3 linked regions of the Homo sapiens genome follow. The protein of the gene in region 1 purifies or fractionates together with the protein of each later gene. This does not show direct contact. Each region holds a gene or a part of one and is shown in the gene's direction. Other genes may lie near its edges. The genes, in order: TFDP2, E2F5 and E2F3.

Region 1 (7,115 bases):
GGACTGTTTCCACTTTTTGGCTATCTCGAATGATGCTGCTGTTAACATTCTTATAAAAGTTTATGTGTAAACATATGTTTTTATCTCTAAAAACATATACCTACGAGTGAAATTGCTGGGTCATATGGTAACTCTGTGTTTAACATTTTAAGGAAATACCAAACTGTTTTCCAAAGCTCCTGTACCATTTACAGTCCAACCAGTGGATAAGTGTTCCAATTTCTCCACATCCTTACTTACTTATTTAGAGACGGAGTCTCACTCTGTCGCCCAAGCTGGAGTGCGGTGACGTAATTTGGCTCACTGCAACCTCCACCTCCCAGGTTCAAGTGATTCTCCTGCCTCAGCCTCCTGAGTAGCTGGGATTACAGGCACCTTGCCGCTATGCCCGGTTAGTTTTGGTATTTTTAGTAGAGACAGGATTTCACCATGTTGGCCAGGCTGATCTGGAACTCTTGGCCTGAATTCACCTGCCTCAGCCTCCCAAAGTGTTGGGATTATACATGTGAGCCACCGTGCCTGCCCTCCATATCCTTTTCTACACTTGTCACTATACATCTTTTGAATTATAGCCATCCTCACAGAAGTGAAGTGATATCTCGCTGTGATTTTTGTGGGGGGGGTGGGGCAGGGTGGTGGTGGAGGGGAGAGAGTCTTGCTCTCCAGGCTGGAGTGCAGTGGCGCAATCTCTGCTCACTGCAGCCTCGAACTCATGGGCTCAAACGATCCACCCACCTCAGCCTCCTGAGTAGCTGGGACCACAGATGTGTGCCACCATGCCCGGTTAAATCTTTTTTTTTTTTTTGATATGTTTGGTAGAGATGGGGTTTTGCCATGTTGTCCAGGCTAGTCTCAAAGTTCTGAGCTCAAGCGATCCACCTGCCTTGGCTCCCACTGTGATTTTGATTTGCATTTCCATAATGACTTCTGATGTTGAGCATCTTTTCATGTGTTTATTGACTATTTGTATGTCTTCCTCAGAAATATGTCTATTCACATTGACTTTTTTTTTGAGATGGAGTCTCTCTCTGTTACCCAGGCTGGAGTGCAATGGTGCAGTCTCAGCTCACTGCAAGCTCCACCTCCCGGGTTCAGGCGATTCTCCTGTCTCAGCCTCCCAAGTAGCTGGAATTACAGGCGCCCACCACCACGCCCAGCTAATTTTTGTATTTTTAGTAGAGACAGGGTTTCACCACGTTGGCCAGGCTGGTCTCGAACTCCTGACCTCAGGTGATCCACCCGCTTCGGCCTCCCACAGTCCATCCTTTGCTCATTTTTAAGTAGAGTTACTTGTCTTTTTATAGAGTTGTAAAGTTATACTGAGTATACTTGAAAACAGAAGCACTATGTTTTACATGTCCTATAATTAAGATTTTTTTCACTAATTTAGAAATCTTCCTGATTTTCCTAATTCCTGAAAATATTACATATTTTGTAGATACAATTTGACTATATAGGTTGGGTGCGGTGGCTTACGCCTGTGATCCCAGCACTTTGGGAGGCTGAGGCAGGCATATCACTTGAGGTTAGGAGTTCAAGACCAGGCTGACCAACATGGCAAAACCCCATCTCTACTAAAAATACAAAAATTAGCCAGGCATGGTGACACATGCCTGTAATTCCAGTTATTTGAGAGGCTGGGGCAGGAAAATCACTTGAACCTGGGAGGCAGAGGTTGCAGTGAACGGAGATTGCACCACTGCACTCCAGCCTGGGCAACAGAGCGAGACTCTGTCTTTTAAAAAAAGAAATGAATATATAAGCAGTGTTTTTGCCTTTGCTTTCTTTTGTTTATTTTATTTGTAAGTATAACCATCTAGAATTTCACATCGCTTTTTAAAGGCATTTTAATACTAGGTCTAAGATACATTAAATCCAATGTAAGCAAAAAGGTAGCTTTAATTTTGTTTTATTCTATGATTTGGTCCTTTGCTCACAACAGAAGAGTTTGTTGGCTGAGATTTGGTTTCTGTTTTAGTTCTTCGGTTGGCACCATTCATCCCCTGCAAGGGCCCCCCGCCTCTCCTTGCCCCTCAGCCCACCTGTTCCGTCTCCCCACCCAGCTTTCCTCTCTCCACGCTCTCCAGCCTGGGTCCTGCTGTGTCATTGGAAGGCCAGCAGAATCTGAATAAAGGGCTTACTCAATAAATCACCAGAACTTTATTTTAGCTTACTCCCAGTGAAAAGGCTCAGGGCGATTAGGCAGGCTCTGTGGTTTTGATCTCTTCGTGACCTCATTTGCAGACTGGGATACAGACTTTCTGGTTAGTTCAAAGGAAGAAACATGTGCCTCTCGTGTGTAAAGGGGCAGAATGGCCTGGGTGGGAGTGTGAGAACCATTGTGTGGATCCTGTGATAATAGGAAAGAAATGTAGGCTTTTCCAATTCATTGTAAAAAGAGAATGTAATGTGTTATGCTCACAAACAAGTAAATAGCTGTGTTCTGACAGAAGGTTTCTATAGTTCTATATACTAATTAATATTCAGCACAAGATTCTGGCTTTAATTTTATTTTCTTGTACAGACTTGTCGTTATTTAATGTATTTAAAGTCTGCTATTCTTCTTAGACTTGAAGTCTCTTTTTTTTCCCAGCTGTCTCAAAGAAAAAGGTTCATAAGACGGTTCTAAAATTAGCATAGTCATTTAGTTTACTTTTTTCCTACGTGGGAATGGCCTCTTGTTTGGATACCAGAGTTTCCAATCTAAATCATATAGTTTCATTTTTTTGTATAGTAATTGCAAAAAGATTTTGATTCAATTAAATCATAGCTCATTTTGGCAGATTACATTTTCTGAGTATGTGTTTGGGCTTATAGAATTTCTTTTTAGGAATTACTTTTAATGTATCTACCACTTATTTTGTAAAGTGGCAGCTGACAGAGACTATACTCATTCATTCAGTAACTTTTTTGTTTTTTTGTTTTTTTTTGTTTTTTTTGAGACAGTCACTCAGGCTGGAGTGCAGTGGCACGATCTCAGCTCACTGCAACCTCCGCCTCCTGGGTTCAAGTGATTCTCCTGCCTCAGTCTCTCTAGTAGCTGGGATTACAGGCATGTATCACCATGCCTGGCTAATTTTTGTATTTTTAATAGAGATGGGGCTTTGCTATATTTGCCAGGCTGGTCTCGAACTCCTGAGCTCAATCTGCCCGCCTTGGCCTCCCAAAGTGCTGGGATTACAGGCATGAGCCACCGCGCCCCGCCACATTTAGATCTTACATGTTCCAGTTACTGCCTTCTTTGAGCTAACACTGTAGATGGGAAGATAAAAAGTATTAAACCAGTAAAATTACAATAAGAATTGATCAGTGTTGTCATAGGATAAATGTGGTATATGTATAGAAAAGAAGATGGCAAGGAGATATCCAAAATATTTTCTTTTCTTTTTTTCTTTTATTTTTTGAGATGGAGTTTCGCTCTTGTTGCCCAGGCTGGAGTGCAGTGGTGCAATCTCAGCTCACTGCAACCTCCGCCTCCCGGGTTCAAGTGATTCTCCTGCCTCAGCCTCCCGAGTAGCTAGGATTACAGGCATGCACCACAACGCCCAGCTAATTTTGTATTTTTAATAGAGATGGGGTTTCTCCATGTTGGACAGAACTCCCAACTTCAGGTGATCCGCCCTCCTTGGCCTCCCAAAATGCTGGGATTATAGGCGTGAGCCACCGTGCTCAGCCCAAACTATTTTCTGTAGACTAAAACAGTAACGTCTGTGTCTGCCTCATTAAAAACATGACTGCATGTGACCTTTTTAAAATAAGAGCTAGTTGTGGGGTGGGGGGAGGGGGGAGGGATAGCATTAGGAGATATACCTAATGCTAAATGACGAGTTAATCGGTGCAGCACACCAGCATGGCACATGTATACATATGTAACTAACCTGCACATTGTGCACATGTACCCTAAAACTTAAAGTATAATAATAATAAAAAAAATAAAATAAGAGCTAGTTTGAATTAGAAAGCAACAGACACCAGGAAAAATCTTGTCAGGAAAAAGAATAGATATTTGATGAGTAGCAGCATTGAGTTCACCAGCAGCAGGCACCTGAAAAGACATTGCGGCGGGGGTTTTGGCCAAAACATGTCTGTCTGCCCTCTAAGCAGGGTGGCCTTCTTACCTCATGTATTTCTGATTTGATTTTCTCTTTTCCCACTTCTGGCTTTGGCTCTCAACACCACAGTCCAGGTCTTTTGTGCTGAGGGCAGAAGGCATTGAGGGTGGTACACTGGGATGTATCCCATGGGCTGTGCTCTGGAGGGCTTATCTAAGAAAAAGAGTAAGAAAGTGCCTTTGAGTGTTTTCATTTGAATACCTTCTCTCCGTAAGCTGCCTTCCCGTATTTTTTTTTTCCTGCTCTTATGTTCTAGAAATTTTTTTTTCTTCCAAGAAGATGAAGAAACCTGGGTTCTTGTCACAGCAAGAGAATTGTCTAGCTGTCATGAAGAATAAGCTTAGCTCTTGCTTTTCTGTGCTTTCCTCAGACTGTAACAACAGCAGCCACAGAACTTGCAGGACCGACATTTTTTGTTCTCATTTTTTCCTTTAGATATCTCCACAGGACCTTCTTGGTTAAATCAGGGACTACTTCTGAACTCTACCCAATCAGTTTCAAATTTAGACCTGACCACTGGTGCCACCTTACCCCAGTCAAGGTACGTATTTTTTTCAGGGTTAGAAAGGCAAACCCCAGAGCCCTGACTGTCTGTGTAGGGGTGAGCCGGGGTCATGTTACTGCCAGCACAGGTCCTGCTGAGCAGGTTTGTGGCAGATCTCACCAATGGCACCTCCTTCCTGTTTTTATTCCTATGTTTTACAAAACTGTTTATACCACATTAATGAGCCTGTGTGTTTTTAATTGTTTGCTAGTGTAAACCAAGGGTTATGCTTGGATGCAGAAGTGGCCTTAGCAACTGGGCAGTTCCTGGCCCCAAACAGTCACCAGTCCAGCAGTGCGGCCTCTCACTGCTCCGAGTCCCGAGGCGAGACCCCCTGTTCGTTCAATGATGAAGATGAGGAAGATGATGAGGAGGATTCCTCCTCCCCAGAATAAAGACAAGAGAAAGCCTACGTTTCAATATGTGATGCTCATGTGTGTTTGTAGTGTGAGCTCTTGTTTTTGAAATGATTGCTTCAGTCTTTGCCTTTGTTTGCACTGTGTGTTCAGTGAAAACTAGAGAAACACAATAAGCAAATCACATGAAGGCTGAGATGATTGAGATGAAAGTTAACATAGTGTGAATGAAAGTCTGGCCAACAGAGCAGTAGATGATATAACAAAGAAAGCATGCTTTCTGAGGAGATAGTGGGGATAATCCCTGAAGAGTTGGCAGTGTGAGTGCAACTCATTTATCTTCTGTGAGGTGGGATTTTTGTGTTCCTCACACCCATGTAATTATTCTTAGAATTGAGATTGCTACACGGAGCAGTCCTTGACGATCGTGTTTCTGACGTTTCTCTTCCTTGCCTGGACTGCCTTTGACAAGGCAGAAATGAACATGAAAAGTCCCCAGGAGAGGGGAGCTGTGTAGTGAGGGATACTGAGGGCAGTCCTGTGGCTGAGGGGCACAGATTGAACTGCTGAACTAGTTGGAGGTCTAGATGAGGTGCTTTACGCATCAGCTGCCTTAGACAGCTTCTAGAAAGGAGCGAGCGCTACTTCTTAAGTACTTAAGTGACATTTAGATAATTTATAGTAAAACTGAAATTATTATTAGCCAATGCATTGGTGCATAGAATTTACTAGGGCTACTTCTGGAAGCCAAAATAGAATAGCATTTCCATGTGCATTAAATACTTTGCCAGCACTGCCTTTGCCAGCATCCTAAATCTGGAGTTTTACAAAGAAGGAAACTGTATCTTTAGGTTAATCAAAGCTATGCATTTCATATAGCTTTTTCATTTAAAACAAGACAAAGAAACAAATTCCTATGACCAAATTGCTTGCCTACAGTTCCCTGCAGTAATTGTATGATCTCACCCAGTGTGCAATTTGTGAAAATGAACCAAATGTCATTACTTTTGTCTTAAAGAAAAGTCTATTTCAAGAATATGAACAGCAGTGTTTCCTTGTACATGTCACCTTTTTTCACATTTTCATTAATCAGAATGACCTTATTGAGCCTACTCCTGGGGTCAATTGCATTTCAAACTAATCCAATATTTAGTGTTTCACAGAAACACTAGAAAACGTTGAACACTCCTACTGCCTGGATATATGGTAGTGCAGTTATGTTGTTTATGGCTCAAGATGTCATTAGAAATACTGCAGTGGTGTATTCACAGCTGCTCCTTCTCTGAATGAAAGAGTGTAGGGACACCTGCCACCATGGCCAGACCCTGACTGAATTTCACATTAAGGCTTTGGAAAGGAGCAAATAATAATGGGAGAATTAACTCCAAAACTTTGACCTGAATCATGTGGATTTGTCCCAAGATTATGCTAGATGCACCAAGCATGGCCCAAATTGGTTCTTTTTTAAATCCCATGGGGGAAGTGCAGGCTCCTTCCTGTGGTGCCTCTTTATAGCCTCACCACCATGCTAACACTGAGCATGGTGAGGAGGAGGAAGCTTTGGCTAGCTAAACATGTTTAATAAGGCCATAAAAACTGAGAAAGAAAAACATTCAACTTTAGCTGAAGCTCCTTTGATACAAAAGTTTCATTCTGTCAGAAATAAGCCATAGTACAGACTCAGAGATAGAGGCAGTTTCTAGAGAACTCGGTCTTATCGTGGGTTCTGGAGCACACCTCTCAGACCAGTCAGGAACACTGGGGAGGTGACAGCAGGTCCCCAGGGGCCTGCAGGGAATCTTTCAGCTGCACGGATTGGGATTTCCCTCCAAACCAAACTGTCCTTTAAGGGGCAGCCTCCTCTTTTACTAACTCCACCCTTTCTCATCTCTGGGACCCAGCAGGGACCTGGAGAGGCCAACAGCCACTGCTACCTTTGTAGTCTTCAAAATATTGAACTGCAGGTCCCAAGATGCATTTCAGGATTTAAGACAGGTGCACTAATGATAACCATTCCTTCACCAAGTAGCAACATTCTTGCCAGAGTTCTTGGGAAACCTGTTTTTTTCTCTACTCTCCATCTCTGCTGCTCTCATGCTTTAA
Region 2 (7,115 bases), on another chromosome or scaffold:
TGAGACTGAGTCTTGCTCTGTCACCCAGGCTGGAGTGCAGTGGCAGATCTCTGCTCACTGCAACCTCCACCTCCCGGGTTCAAGCGATTCTCCTGCCTCAGCCTCCCAAGTAGCTGGGATTACAGGTGCCCGCCACCATGCCCGACTCATTTTTGTATGTTTAGTAGAGAAGGGGTTTCACCATGTTGGCCAGGCTGGTCTCGAACTCCCAACCTCAAATGATCTGCTTGCCTCAGCCTCCCAGAGTGCTGGGATTACAGGCGTGAGCCACCATACCCAGCCCATTAAGACATGTTTGATAATACATATTAAAGATGGACTCACACTGACAATTATAAATTTCCTCTAATTTGAAATTATAAAGACACATTTTCTCTTGTATTCTTACTTTGGTGGGGGCATATTTCAGCATAATTTTTTTGAAACTTTTAAGTTATACACTTGACTTTTAAACGCAGTTAAAGAAACTATACATATATATATATATATATATATATATATATATATATATATATATGGTTTTTTGGTTGGTCTTGTTTTTTTTTTTTTTTTTTTTTGAGACAGAGTCTCGCTCTGTGGCCCAGGCGGGAGTGCAGTGGCGCAATCTCGGCTCACTGCAAGCTCCGCCTCCCGGGTTCATGCCATTCTCCTGCCTCAGCCTCCCGAGTAGCTGGGACTACAGGCACCCGCCATCACGCCCGGCTAATTTTTTTTGTATTTTTAGTAGAGACGGGGTTTCACCATGTTAGCCAGGATGGTCTCGATCTTCTGACCTCGTGATCCGCCCGCCTCGGCCTCCCAAAGTGCTGGGATTACAAGCGTGAGCCACCGCGCCCGGCCGGTCTTGTTTGTTTTTTGAGACAGGGTCTTATTCTGTCGCCCAGGCTGGAGTGCAGTGGTACAATCTCAGCTCATTGTAACCTCCACTTCCCGGGCTCAAGTGATTCTCCTGCCTCAGCCTACCAAGTAGCTGGCACTACAGGCGTACACCATTATGCCTGGCTTATTTTTATATTTTTAGTAGAGACAGGGTTTTGCCATATTGCCCAGGCTGGTCTCGAACTCCTGAGCTCAAAGCTATCTGCCTACCTTGGTCTCCCCTGTGAGCCACCGCTTCCGGCCTTGAAGAAACAGTTTTTGAATATCCCAAAGAATAAAAAAGTATATCAAACTTCAAGTAAAATATCCAAATATTTTGGATATCATAAAGTATCCTAGACCACATAGATGCTATTTCTTTTCTATCTTATGCTGCTGGAGAATAAGAACGTAAGGTTGTATCTTAGTGACACATTTCTTCTTTTTTTTTGAGACGGGAGTCTCACTCTGTCACCCAAGCTGGAGTGCAGTGTCGCGATCTCCACTCGCTGCAAGCTCCGCCTCCTGGGTTCACGCCATTCTCCTGCCTCAGGCTCCTGAGTAGCTGGGACTACAGGCGCCCGCCACCACGCCCGGCTAGTTTTGTTTTTTTTTTTTTTGTATTTTTAGTAGAGGTGGGGTTTCACCGTGTTAGAATGGTCTCGATCTTCTGACCTCGTGATCCTCCCACCTCGGCCTCCCAAAGTGCTGGGATTACAGGCGTGAGCCACCGCGCCTGGCCATTTCTTCTTAATAATATAACTAATTGAAAACATGGCTCGGTCAGGCGTGGTGGCTCACGCCTGTAATCCCAGCACTTTGAGAGGCCGAGGCGGGCAGATCACCTGAGGTCAGGAGTTCGAGACCAGCCTGCCCAACATGGCGAAACCCCGTCTCTACTAAAAATACAAAAAAATTAGCCAGGCGTCGTGGAGGCGCCTGTAATCCCAGCTACTTGGCAGGCTGAAGCAGGAGAATCGCTTGAACTCAAGAGGCGGAGGTTGCAGTGAGCCGAGATCGCACCACTGCACTCCATCCTGGGCGACAAGAGCGAAACTGTGTCTCAAAAAAAAAAAACATGGCTCAACATAGAAAATCAATTTTAATAAAGCTGTTGTAGTATAACTTAACAATTAGGAAGCAATAGAAAGACATTGAAAGTGATGTGAGGAAAGTTTATTCATTATCTCTGCAGCTTCACCTACACCATATAGTCTCATTTACAATAGTGGAGGTGGGATAGTTATTATTTCTTTATTCCAGTGAGATAAGAAATTATATCATGGTTATTTCAAGCTACGTGGTTTGCCAGTTTATGCTGTTAATAGCTAATATACATCAAGAGCTTACCATATGCAAAACATTTTACATGTTTTTAGCTAATGTTATCCTCTTAACAACAGTGAACATTTCGGCAGAACAGCCCCATTTCACAGCGTAAGAAACTGCTAGTTAAGTAGGCCAAGATAGGTTAGATAACTTGCCTGGTGTTGTACAGTAGAAAGTGAGAGCTAAGATTTGAAATTAGACCATTTATTGTTATTCTCTATGTTATACCATCTTTCAGTAGTCTTCAAAAATAAATGTATGTAGGTAGGTTTCCATTTGCATAAGGGCATGGAAAAATGCATGATTATTCTTACTCCTCTGCCCAAGGTGGAAAAGAAGGAGGTACTGTGCTCCTGAAAATGAAGCTATTGGTGACATATTCTGTATTATTGCATAAATTAAACTAGGATTTCACTTGTTCACAGTTAAGAATTTGAACAACTGTTAAGATAGTCATGACTATGTATCTGTATGTTGTTTTGAAAATTCCTATTAAATGTAAGTTATAACTAAAGTTCTACATTTTATTTGCCATTTTGGTGTCAGTATGAGCTTTTTTAAGCATGATGAAGATTGCTTATCTCTTTTATTATAATTCTTTAACTTAATAAATTACCTGAATTATACCTGAATTAATGTGATAAAGTATGGTGCGTCTTATCTGACAGGTCCCTGATGCATACCCGTTTATGAGCCTGATTTAGATACATCCTGGGATAAATAAATAATTGAAGACACTAGTTTGGCCGGGCCCGGTGGTTCACGCCTGTAATCCCAGCACTTTGGGAGGCCGAGGCGGGCAGATCACGAGGTCGGGAGATTGAGACCATCCTGGCTAACACGGTGAAACCCCGTTTCTACTAAAAATACAAAAAAATTAGCCGGGTGTGATGACTGGTGCCTGTAGTCCTAGCTACTCAGGAGGCTGAGGCAGGAGAATGGTGTGAACCCGGGAGGCGGAGCTTGCAGTGAGCCACGATCACGCCACTGCACTCCAGCCTGGGTGACAGAGCAAGACTCCGTCTCGAAAAACAGCAACAACGACAACAAAAGACCCTAGTTTGTAATACCAGGCAAACATTTTAAGGTAGAATTAGCCTAAGGAGAGATATGTGGGTAGGACAGCGAGAACTTTAGTGCATGCTTACAAATTCTCAGGACCCTTCCACTCCTGGGTGTATACCCAAAGAATTGAAAGCAGGGCCTCAAGAAGGTATGTATACCCCTGTGTTCATAACAGTGGCATTCATAATAGCCAAAATGTGGATGCAATCCTAATGTCCGTCAATAGATGAGTAGCTTAACAAAATGTGGTATATATACAATGGAATATTCTTCAGGCTTAGAAAGAAGAAAATGCTGACATATGCTGCAACATGATAAACTTTGAGGACATAATGCTAGGTGAAATAAGCCAGTCACAAAAAGATAAATACTGTATGATTCCACTTACGTGAGGTACCTGGAGTAGTCAAATTCACAGGGGCAGAAAGTAGAAGGGTGGTTACCAGGGGTTGAGGGAAAACAGAATGGAATTTGTTGCTTAATGGATGTTATAGGCTGAAATGTGTCCCCCAAAATTCATATGTTGAAGGCCTTACCTCCATACATCAGAATGTGATTGTATTTGGGGATAGGGCCTTTGAAAGATAATTAAGCTAAAATTAAGCTGTGACCTGATCTAATCTGACTGGGGTCCTTATGAGAAAGGGGAAATTTGGATATACAAAGAGATGCCTCAGATGCTGCCACCCAGAGGAAAGACCATGTGAGGACACAGCAGGAAGGTGATCATCTGTAAGCCAAGGAGCGAGGCCTCTGAAGAAACCAAATGGGCCAATGAAAAAAAAGAAAATGTCAGGCCCATATAACTGATGAACGTCGATGCAAAAATCCTCAATAAAATACTGCAGACCAAATCCAGCAGCACATCAAAAAGCTTATCCACCATGATCAAGTTGGCTTCATGCCTGGGATGCAAGGCTGGTTCAACATACGCAAATCAATAAATCCATCACATAAACAGAATCAATGACAAAAACCCATGATTATCTCAATAGATGCAAAAAGGCCTTCAACAAAATTCAACAGCCCTTCGTGCTAAAAACTCTCAATAAACTAGGTATCAGTGGAACATATCTCAAAATAATAAGGCTATTTATGACAAATCCACAGCCAGTATCATACTGAATGGACAAAAACTGGAAGCATTCCCTTCGAAAACCAGTATAAGACAAGAATGCCCTCTCTCACCACTCCTATTCAGCACAGAGTTGGAAGTTCTGGCCAGGGCAGTCAGGCAAGAGAAATAAATAAAGGGCATTCAAACAGGAAAAGAGGAAGTCAAATGGCCTCTGTTTGCAGATGACATGATTGTATATTTAGAAAACCCCATCGTCTTAGCCCCAAATCTCCTTAAGCTGATAAGCAACTTCAGCAAAGTCTCAAGATACAAAATCAATGTGCAAAAATCACAAGCATTCCTATACACCAGTAACAGACAAAGAGCCAAATCATGAGTGGACTCCCATTCACAATTGCTACTAAGAGAATAAAATACCTAGGAATCCAACTTACAAGGGATGTGAAGGACCTCTTCAAGGAGAACTATAAACCACTGCTCAAGGAAATAAGAGAGGACACAAACAAATGGAAAAACATTCTATGCTCATGGATAGGAAGAATCAATATCATGAACATGGCCATACTGCCCAAAGTAATTTATAGATTCAATGCTATCCCTATCAAGCTACCAATGACTTTCTTCACAGAATTGGAAAAAACTACTTCAAACTTCATAGGGAACCAAAAAAGAGCCTGCATAGCCAAGACAATCTTAAGCAAAAATAACAAAGCTGGAGGCATCATGCTACCTGACTTCAAACTAAACTACAAGGCTACAGTAACCAAAACAGCATGGTATTGGTACCAAAACAGATATATAGACCAATGGAACAGAACAGAGGCCTCGGAAATAAACACCACACATCTACAACCATCTGATCTTTGACAAACCTGACACCAAGAAGAAATGGGGAAAAGATTCTCTATTTAATAAATGATGTTGGAAAACTGGCTAGCCATATGCAGAAAACTGAAACTGGAGCCCTTCCTTACACCTTATACAAAAATCAACTCAAGATGGATGAAAGACTTAAACGTAAGACCTGAAACCATAAAAATCCTAGAAAAGAACCTGGGCAATACCATTCAGGACAAAAGCATGGGCAAAGACTTCTTGTCTAAAACACGAAAAGCAATGGCAACAAAAGTCAAAATTGACCAATAGAATCTAATTAAACTAAAGAGCTTCTGCACAGCAAAAGAAACTATCATCAGAATGAACAGCCAGCCTATAGAATGGGAGAAGATCTTTGCAATCTACCCATCTGACAAAGAGTTCATATCCAGGATCTGCAAAGAACTTAGACGAATTTACAATAAAAAACAACCCCATCAAAAAGTGGGCAAAGGATATGAACAGACACTTCTCAAAAGAAGACTTTTATGCAGCCAACAAACATATGAAAAAATGCTCATCGTCACTGGTCATTGGAAAAATGCGAATCAAAACCACAATGAGATACCATCTCACACCAGTTACAATGGCGATCATTAAAAAGTCAGGAAACAACAGATGTTGGAGAGGATGTGGAGAATTAGGAATGCTTTTATACTGTTGGTGGGAGTTTAAATTAGTTCAACCATTGTGGAAGACAGTGTGGTGATTCCTCAAGGATCTAGAACTAGAAATACCATCTGACCCAGCAATCCTATTACTGGCTATACACCCAAAGGAGTATAAATCATTCTATGATAAAGACACATGCACACGTATGTTTATTGTGGCACTATTCACAATAGCAAAGACTTGGAACCAACCCAAATATCCATCAATGGTAGACTGGATAAAGAAAATCTGGCACATATACACCATGGAATACTATGCAGCCGTAAGAAAGGATGAGTTCATGTCCTTTGCAGGGACATGGATGAAGCTGGAAACCATCATTCTCAGCAAACTATCACAATAACAGAAAACCAAACACCACATGTTCTCACTCGTAAGTGGGAGTTGAACAAGAACACATGGACACAGGGAGGGGAACATCACACAGTGGGGCCTGTTCAGGGTTGGGGGGCTAGGGGAGGGATAGCATTAACAGAAATACCTAATGTGGGTGACGAGTTGATGGTTGCAGCAAACCACCATGGCACATGTATACCTATGTAACAAAACTGCACGTTCTGCACATGTACCCCAGAACTTAAGGTGTGTGTATGTGTGTGTGTATATATATGTACGGTATATATATATATGGTATATACATAAGGTATATATATGGTGTGTGTGTATATATATGATATATATAAAGTATATATGGTATATATAAGGTATATATATGGTATATATGTAAGGTATATATGGTGTATATATGGTATATATGTAAGGTATATATGGTATATATATGGTATATATGGTATATATAAGGTGTATATATGATATATATAAGGTATATATATGGTATATATAAGGTGTATATATACGGTATATATAAGGTGTATATATATGATATGTATATATAAGGTGTATATATATGGTATATATATGTAAGGTGTATATATATGGTGTGTATATATAAGGTGTATATATATGGTATATATATATGTAAGGTATATATATGGTGTGTATATATATAAATTCCTCCTTAGTTTTCTCTAACAATCCAAGCATAAAAAAAAATCCCTGTTAGAACTGCTTTTGCTGTATTCCATAGATTTTGTTATATTGTTTCCATTTTCATTTGTTAAGATATTTTTCAGTTTCCCTTTGTATTTTTTCATTGACTCATTAGATGTTTAAGAGCATGTTTTTTGTTTTTAAATTTCCATGTATTTGTGAATATTCTGTAGTTTCTCTTGTTAAT
Region 3 (7,115 bases), on another chromosome or scaffold:
ATATCTTTATCCATGGTTCTAATAGCAGATTAACTCACTTTCTGGGTAAATTAAGGCAAGACTTAAATGCCTCCATTTCGTCTGTAGAGCAGGGATGGTAGCATGATACTTATACAGCCACACGTATGATTACATATGTAATATATTTTGTGAATTTTAGAGCATCTAAATAGCCACTATAAGCACAGTATTGAATTATTAAAGCATTTTGGAAGGAATAATTCTGTTACAGGAGGGCTTTGAAAAGATACTAATTCAGATGGAAGATGAATACATACCTTTTTTTGCACATTTTGGAATTTTGTTGACAGTTTGGTAACCCGTTTTGGCCTCTGGTTTAGAGAAACATATTGTGCACTAGTCTCAGTTCTTGCATACATCACATACATCTGTTTCCTTTACTTTCTTTTCTTTTTAGTTGTTGATATAAGACCCTCAGTAATTACCTGAGTTTTTGATGCTTTTTTGGATGGGTTGTTTTTTTGTTTTTTTTTTTTTTTAATTTTGAACCATTCCATCTTCTCTGTCTTTCTCTATCTTTTTATCCTTTTTCGCCTTTCTTCCCCCACCACCTGGGAGCCATGAGGCAAGGGAGGAAGGTGGTTGCCTTCTTTTGCCCTCTGAATTTGAACCTTCTGAAGAAGTAGACCTCCCCTGGAGGAAAGAATCCTGAAAATAGCAGTGCGCTTTCACTAAATTTCTATGCTGTGAAAAGTGCAGAACTGTATTTATGAAAAAAAAAATATATATATATATATATATATGTGTAAATGTTCTAATTTTAACACTTGGCTAACAAGCAATGTGACCTCCTATGTCAAGAGGAGACATTTACCCAAAGGATCATTTCTCCTTCCCCTCCCTCCCATGAGTAGCCATGAAGAGTCTGTGTTTGGGTTTCTAGGGGCTGCAGTCTGTCTGAGGATGGGGGCATGCTGGCCCAGTGTCAAGGCCTGTCAAAAGAAGTGACCGAGCTCAGTCAGGAAGAGAAGAAATTAGATGAACTGATCCAAAGCTGCACCCTGGACCTCAAACTGTTAACCGAGGATTCAGAGAATCAAAGATATCCTTTGTGCCGCCAGTTCTCTGGGGGTTAGTGCTTCCTAGACTATTTCCAGAGTTGACAATCTGACTTATGCACAAGGTAGATTATTATTCTGATGTCATGCAAATGAGTACCTGTGTGCCTGTGTGTGTATGTGTGTGTGTGTGCACGTGTGTGTGTAAACCCAGTTAGCTTTGCCTAAAAAGTCAGTATTTATGGTAAGATAGTCACCAACTCGATCCTATTATTATCTATTTTGATACCAGGTGGGAACTGTTTTTTAAAGCATTTTTTCATGTGTGGTTGAGACATGGGTATACTCGTAGCGTAAGGCCACACTATTAAAAGATACATAAGGTGTCGGTATTAATATTAATGACAACACTAAGCAGATTCGTCTTTGGCTTCCCAGATTTTTGGTGGGTGTTAGCTGTCACTGTTGGGGTTCTCACATTCTATTTTCTTCTCACCAGATATCGTAGCAATTGAAATTGGTTGAATCTATCTGATTGGGCTATAGTTGAAGGGTTTGAAAGAGTAGAGAAAAATCATACTATAACTCTTAAAGTGCATTCTGCTGATTCCCAATGAAAAAACTGATTTCAAAAGCACCCCAAGACCTGAGAAACCCCTCTCAATTCCTCTGTTCCACTACAAACATTAGTCCTCGCAAATAAAAATACAAAAGGTCAGTTCTTGTTCTCAACTTCCTGACAATCTATTGACGATCTCAGGAAAACTTGCTCTTCATCATCTCACTACAGACAAAGTAAGAGAGAGATTGCCTCATTATGTCAAACAAGACTTGCCAATATTCTCAGTTATTAGAAGACAAAAAACAGTACTGTAAGTTATCCCATCTCTAGTTTTAGTTCCAAACTTCTGATGATTGCACATTTACCATTATTTGACAAAAACTAAAAAGTGTTCTGCCCAGATTCTTCTAGTGTCTCATCTTTAACAGGCTCCCCCTTGGAGAATATGGAGATATTTATTTTCTTCCAATGTTGGCAGTTTTTCAAACCTGCAATTGTTCATTTCCTGTTGACCAAAGAATTAACCTTGTCAGCCGATAATTAGTGAGATGGAAGAGAGGCGTAGTGATTTGGACCCCCAGTGGTTGGCAGAGTGGGTTTACAGGGGAAGAAACCAACAGTTGGGCTGTTTCATTCATTGTTTGGTTGGGAGCCCCATTGTGGAAGAGATGGGTGGTTACATGTGATTGGCAGCCTTCCGGGACATGTGGCTTATGGCATTGTCACCTATATTAGCTCTCTCTGGGGCCTTTGTTGCAGAAAATGAAAGCTTCCTTGCAGGGAACTTCGAACCCAAGGAGTAAATTCAGGAGGGAGCCACAAAGGAAGCACTTTTAAGTTTGTAAGATTAGAAAATACATTTGCACAATTTATTTCAGTTCACCATTCAGTTCCCAAATTGGTACAGCTTGTTCACAAATGTGTTGAAATTTTCCTTCCTGCAGCATGTTGAGTAATCGTAGATGAGTTTTTCTTTTACACTTGATCTTAGCCAAAAGGCCAAGAAGTGATGAGTTTTTATTTTAATAAGTTCTTGTCATACAGCTTTTTGACAGTGAGCTGTAGTGTAAGTACCTGGTTGTCAGTTTTTTCCAGTGTTCTCAGTAAAAAATCAGAACTGCCTGGCCCTCTATAAAGGCATCCGTTGACTTCTTTGATGGGTTATGTAGTGACCTAAAACCCAGAATCCTGCAAGAGCAGCCACTACAAGCTCAACACTGAATTAGCCATCATCTCAACTGTAAAGATTTGAAGGAGATAGTCTGTGATAGATCCCCTACATGTGTATGCAGATTTCGTGTGAATGTGCTTTCTTTCTGGAGTAGTAGTTCCATAGCTGCATTCAGTTTCTAATAAGAAGCTACTACAGCCAGGCACGGTGGCTCATGCCTGTAATCCCAGCTACTCGGGAGGCTGAGGCAGGAGAATCACTTGAACCTGGGAGACAGAGGTGGCAGTGAGCTGAAATCGTGCCACTGCACTCCAGCCTTAGTGACAGAGTGGGAGTCCGTCTCAAAAAAAAAAAAAAAAAGAAGCTACTATCGTAAGGGACATGATTTATTCTAGGGTCTCTAAGCCCCCCCTTTTTTTTATATTAAACATATTAGATCACGGACTCTATTAGCCATTAAATACGTTATACTACCTGCTGAAATGCCTTCATTGGTTTGTTACTTGCTGTTTTATCCTAGGAATTTTTTGTGGGTACATATAAAAAATAATAACGGGCTAAAGACATTGTACATTAATTGAATACTTTTGTCATATCGTAAGTACCATATTCTTTCATGATAGCCTTTTAGGCTTGGCTGTCAGGACATTTAAAAGAATGGTTCAGTGCTTAGAAAAAATGACCAAGGCCGGGCGCCGTGGCTCACACCTGTAATCCCAGCACTTTGGGAGGCCGGAGGCAGGCAGATCACTTGAGTCCAGGAGTTCAAGACCAGCCTGGGCAACAGGGTAAAACCCCATCTCTACTAAAAATAAAAAAAATTAGCCGGGTGTGGTGGTGCACGCCTGTAGTCCCATCTGTTTGGGAGGCTGAGGCACGAGAATCATTTAACCCCAGAGACGGAGGTTGCAGTGAGCTGAGATTGGGCCACTGAACTCCAGCCTGGGTGACAGAGCAAGATTCTGTCTCAAAAAGAAAAAGGAAATAACTACCAAGAGTACTGAGATATTATACTTTTCTCTTTTCCTAAATCAGTGTTTCTCAAATTCATTCAAGTCGCAGAGCACCTGGAAACTGCTTTCTTCCTCATGAACACTGAAATATTGATAGAGTTAATATAGTATCACGCAAAGCATAATTTTTCTAACAGAAATAATGACACTCTTTTCTGTAGGCAGTACATAATCACAACCAGCCCAGGTGCACTTAAGAAAACAAGCTGTCTGCCTGAGCAGTATTCTGAGTTCCTCCACTAATGTATTTGTTACTTATTTATTTACTTGGTGGCTGCTGACACTTGCTTGTAGATAGAAGTAACTGGAGTTTCAAAAAAATTATGGCTAATAGAGATTACATTTTTTTTTCCTGCAAATTGGAATCTGCCATCATTCAGTTTGAGTGACAGAACACTTTATTGGAGTTCATGGAATGCCTGTGCTGCAAAGGACCCTGGCTTCAAGATAAAATTTCTGACCACTTAGTTTTTTATTTTCTTATGATCATTTATTTTAACTGTTCTGTTTCTATGTTTAATATTTTAAATAGCCATAGTCTTTTTAGAAATGGGCGGGATAAAGCTATTCATTTCTTTAGTTGTTTAGAGTGTCAACCAGAAATGAAGATTCATGGGAGACCCTAAACATTTGCACATCCAGAAGGGGAGACATACACATACTTTTTTGAGAAGGAGTCTCGCTCTGTCGCCCAGGCTGGAGTGCAGTGGCGCGATCTCGTCTCACTGCAAGCTCCACCTCCCGGGTTCATGCCATTCTCCGGCCTCAGCCTCCCGAGTAGCTGGGACTACAGGCGCCCGCCACCACGCCTGGCTAACTTTTTGTATTTTTAGTAGAGACGGGGTTTCACCGTGTTAGCCAGGTTGGTCTCCATCTCCTGACCTCATGATCCACCCGCCTCGGCCTCCCAAAGTGCTGGGATTACAGGTGTGAGCCACCGCGCCCGGCCACATATGCATACTTCTAAGTCATAAAATACTTTAAAATATTCCATGCATCTATTTTGTCATTTTCATCATACTTATATCTGAGGTAATTAGATGGAAGATTCCTTGACACTCTTTACGTTAGCTTATGTTACATATCAAGATATTCGAAAAATTAGTGGCCTTAAAGACCAAACTGTTATAGTTGTGAAAGCCCCTCCAGAAACAAGACTTGAAGTGCCTGACTCAATAGAGGTAAGGAGACAGCGTCTTTGTTCATCTGCAAAGATCTTTGTGGAATGCCTGAAATTGAATGACTCATTGACTCATAGTTAAAGTCTGTCCCCCTCCTATGAACTTGATGGTTCTTTCCCATTTATTTTACTTAACCATACATTTGAAAACATTTCAATGGTTTGATGTTCATTGAGTATTCAAACAACCTAACTTTGACCTAGCAGGATGTTCAGTTCAAAGTGGTATATGATGCGCTGTCCCTCTCATACTTTCTCTTTTTCATAATTTGTCATCAACGGTTTTGATCAATTTGAATCACTTTGGAAAGTTTATATTGATTATCCTGTATATGGTCCCCACCACGAACAGATATATAAATGTTTTAAAGTCTCTCCCTAACTTATAACATTTTGAGAGATCACATGGGGCTTTGGGTTAGCTGATAGACTAGAATATTGCAAGAAAGTAGGGGGCATATTTTTGTAATTTTCAGATATACTTGGATAATAGAGGCCTAGACTACAACTATAACATAAAGAGTTGTAGTAAAAAGAAAATGCATAGGAGATAAAAAGAGAATGAAAGTTACACGCTTCCATCTAGGGTAGACTTCTTACCTTAAAAGATAATAATAGCTCTTTGACCTAGATGAAAAAGATTTTTAAATGTTGGTATGCTGCATTCTCTTAATAGATGCAGTTCCTAGCACTTAAGAATACTATTCATCAGTATACAGTTCAACATGAAAAAGTCCTACCATAAAGGAACAATAACATGGAGATACTGAATTTGGAACACTTAAAGGACCTTGTAATAATTTGCAGAAAAAGAATATATCCAAAGAACACAATTCACCTCACCCATTGTGCTATTTTCAGAATGACTCCCCTCTCCCCCAAGCCCCACTAAAATAGTTTTCTTTCTCTAGGGCAGGACTCAGCAAACTTTTTCATTGAAGTGCCAGGTAGATAGTAAATATTTTTGGCTTTGCGAGCCGTACAGCCTGTGTCTAGACTATTCAACTGTGCACCTCTGACATTGTGATACGAAAACAGCCAGAGGCAATAATAAACAATGGGAATGGATGTGACTCTCTTCCAATAAAACTTTATTTACAAAGCCACTTGGTGAACTGGATTTGGCCCTTAGGCTGTGGTTTGCTGACCCCTGCTCTAGAGGATGACAGTCTTTCATAGAGTTGGACTAGTAGGGAAAAAGCAAGTGAAAAACGAACATTGTTCTTACTTTCCATTTTTAGACAAGAATTACTATGGCTTTTATTTCTAAAAGAACTTCTGATTCGAACTTCTCCCACTTCTGTTCATAGAGCCTACAAATACATTTGGCAAGTACCCAAGGGCCCATTGAGGTTTACTTATGTCCAGAAGAGACTGAAACACACAGTCCAATGAAAACAAACAACCAAGACCACAATGGGAATATCCCTAAACCCGCTTCCAAAGGTAAAAACTCCACTTTTGTCTTTTAGAAACTATGTTAAAAATGAGGGTGACTAGAACCATCTGTATTGGAACCACAAGCCTAGGCAAGAAACACAAACTTCTATTGGTATTAGGTAACATGTTTTAAAAGACATTCTGACTGGTTTGCAGAAGAAAATAATGATTTGGGAAAAACGGCTCCTTCACCCACTTATGGAGTCGCTTCAGGCTTTTGCTATTGGCAGAGAATGTTTCCTTACAGCATTTTTGAAAACCAGCTAAAGTGAGGAGCAAAGCTGTGAACTGTCTTGTTGGATCATCAGAGACACTTGGCCACACACCTTTGAATCACACTGCAGAGCTCATCAGAGAGGGAAATGAAAAAGGTTTGAGGAGAAAAGCCTTTGTTGGAGAATTTTTGTCTTATTTTCCCCCCCAATGAGATGGGGAGAGGATATGGGAGGAGAACGCTAGGAAAGTAAGTCTTGCCGGGTGCGGTGGCTCACACCTGTAATCCCAGCACTTTGGGAGGCCGAGGCAGGCAGATCACGAGGTCAGGAGATCGAGACTGTCCTGGCCAACACAGTGAAACCCTGTCTCTACTAAAAATACAAAAATTAGCTGTGCGTGGTGGCACGTGCCTGTAATCCCTGCTACTCGGGAGGCTGAGGCAGGAGAATCACTTGAACCAGGGAGTCGGAGGTTGCAGTGAGCCGAGATCCGCCACTGCACTCCAGCCTGGTGA

What was found.
Region 2: the proteins of TFDP2 (region 1) and E2F5 purify together in Homo sapiens (affinity purification with mass spectrometry; 3 studies listed by BioGRID and IntAct, with this or other methods). This does not show direct contact.
Region 3: the proteins of TFDP2 (region 1) and E2F3 purify together in Homo sapiens (affinity purification with mass spectrometry; 3 studies listed by BioGRID and IntAct, with this or other methods). This does not show direct contact.

Annotation. Positions count from the first base shown.
Region 1 is NC_000003.12:141,950,449-141,957,563, reverse strand, and holds part of TFDP2 (transcription factor Dp-2), read left to right. Parts: intron 1-4,547; coding exon 4,548-4,653; intron 4,654-4,867; coding exon 4,868-5,051; 3' UTR 5,052-7,115. UniProt on the Homo sapiens protein: Can stimulate E2F-dependent transcription.
Region 2 is NC_000008.11:85,180,039-85,187,153, forward strand, and holds part of E2F5 (transcription factor E2F5), read left to right. Parts: intron 1-7,115.
Region 3 is NC_000006.12:20,481,858-20,488,972, forward strand, and holds part of E2F3 (transcription factor E2F3), read left to right. Parts: intron 1-904; coding exon 905-1,063; coding exon of another isoform or gene 1,064-1,092; intron 1,093-4,831; coding exon 4,832-4,946; intron 4,947-6,255; coding exon 6,256-6,391; intron 6,392-7,115.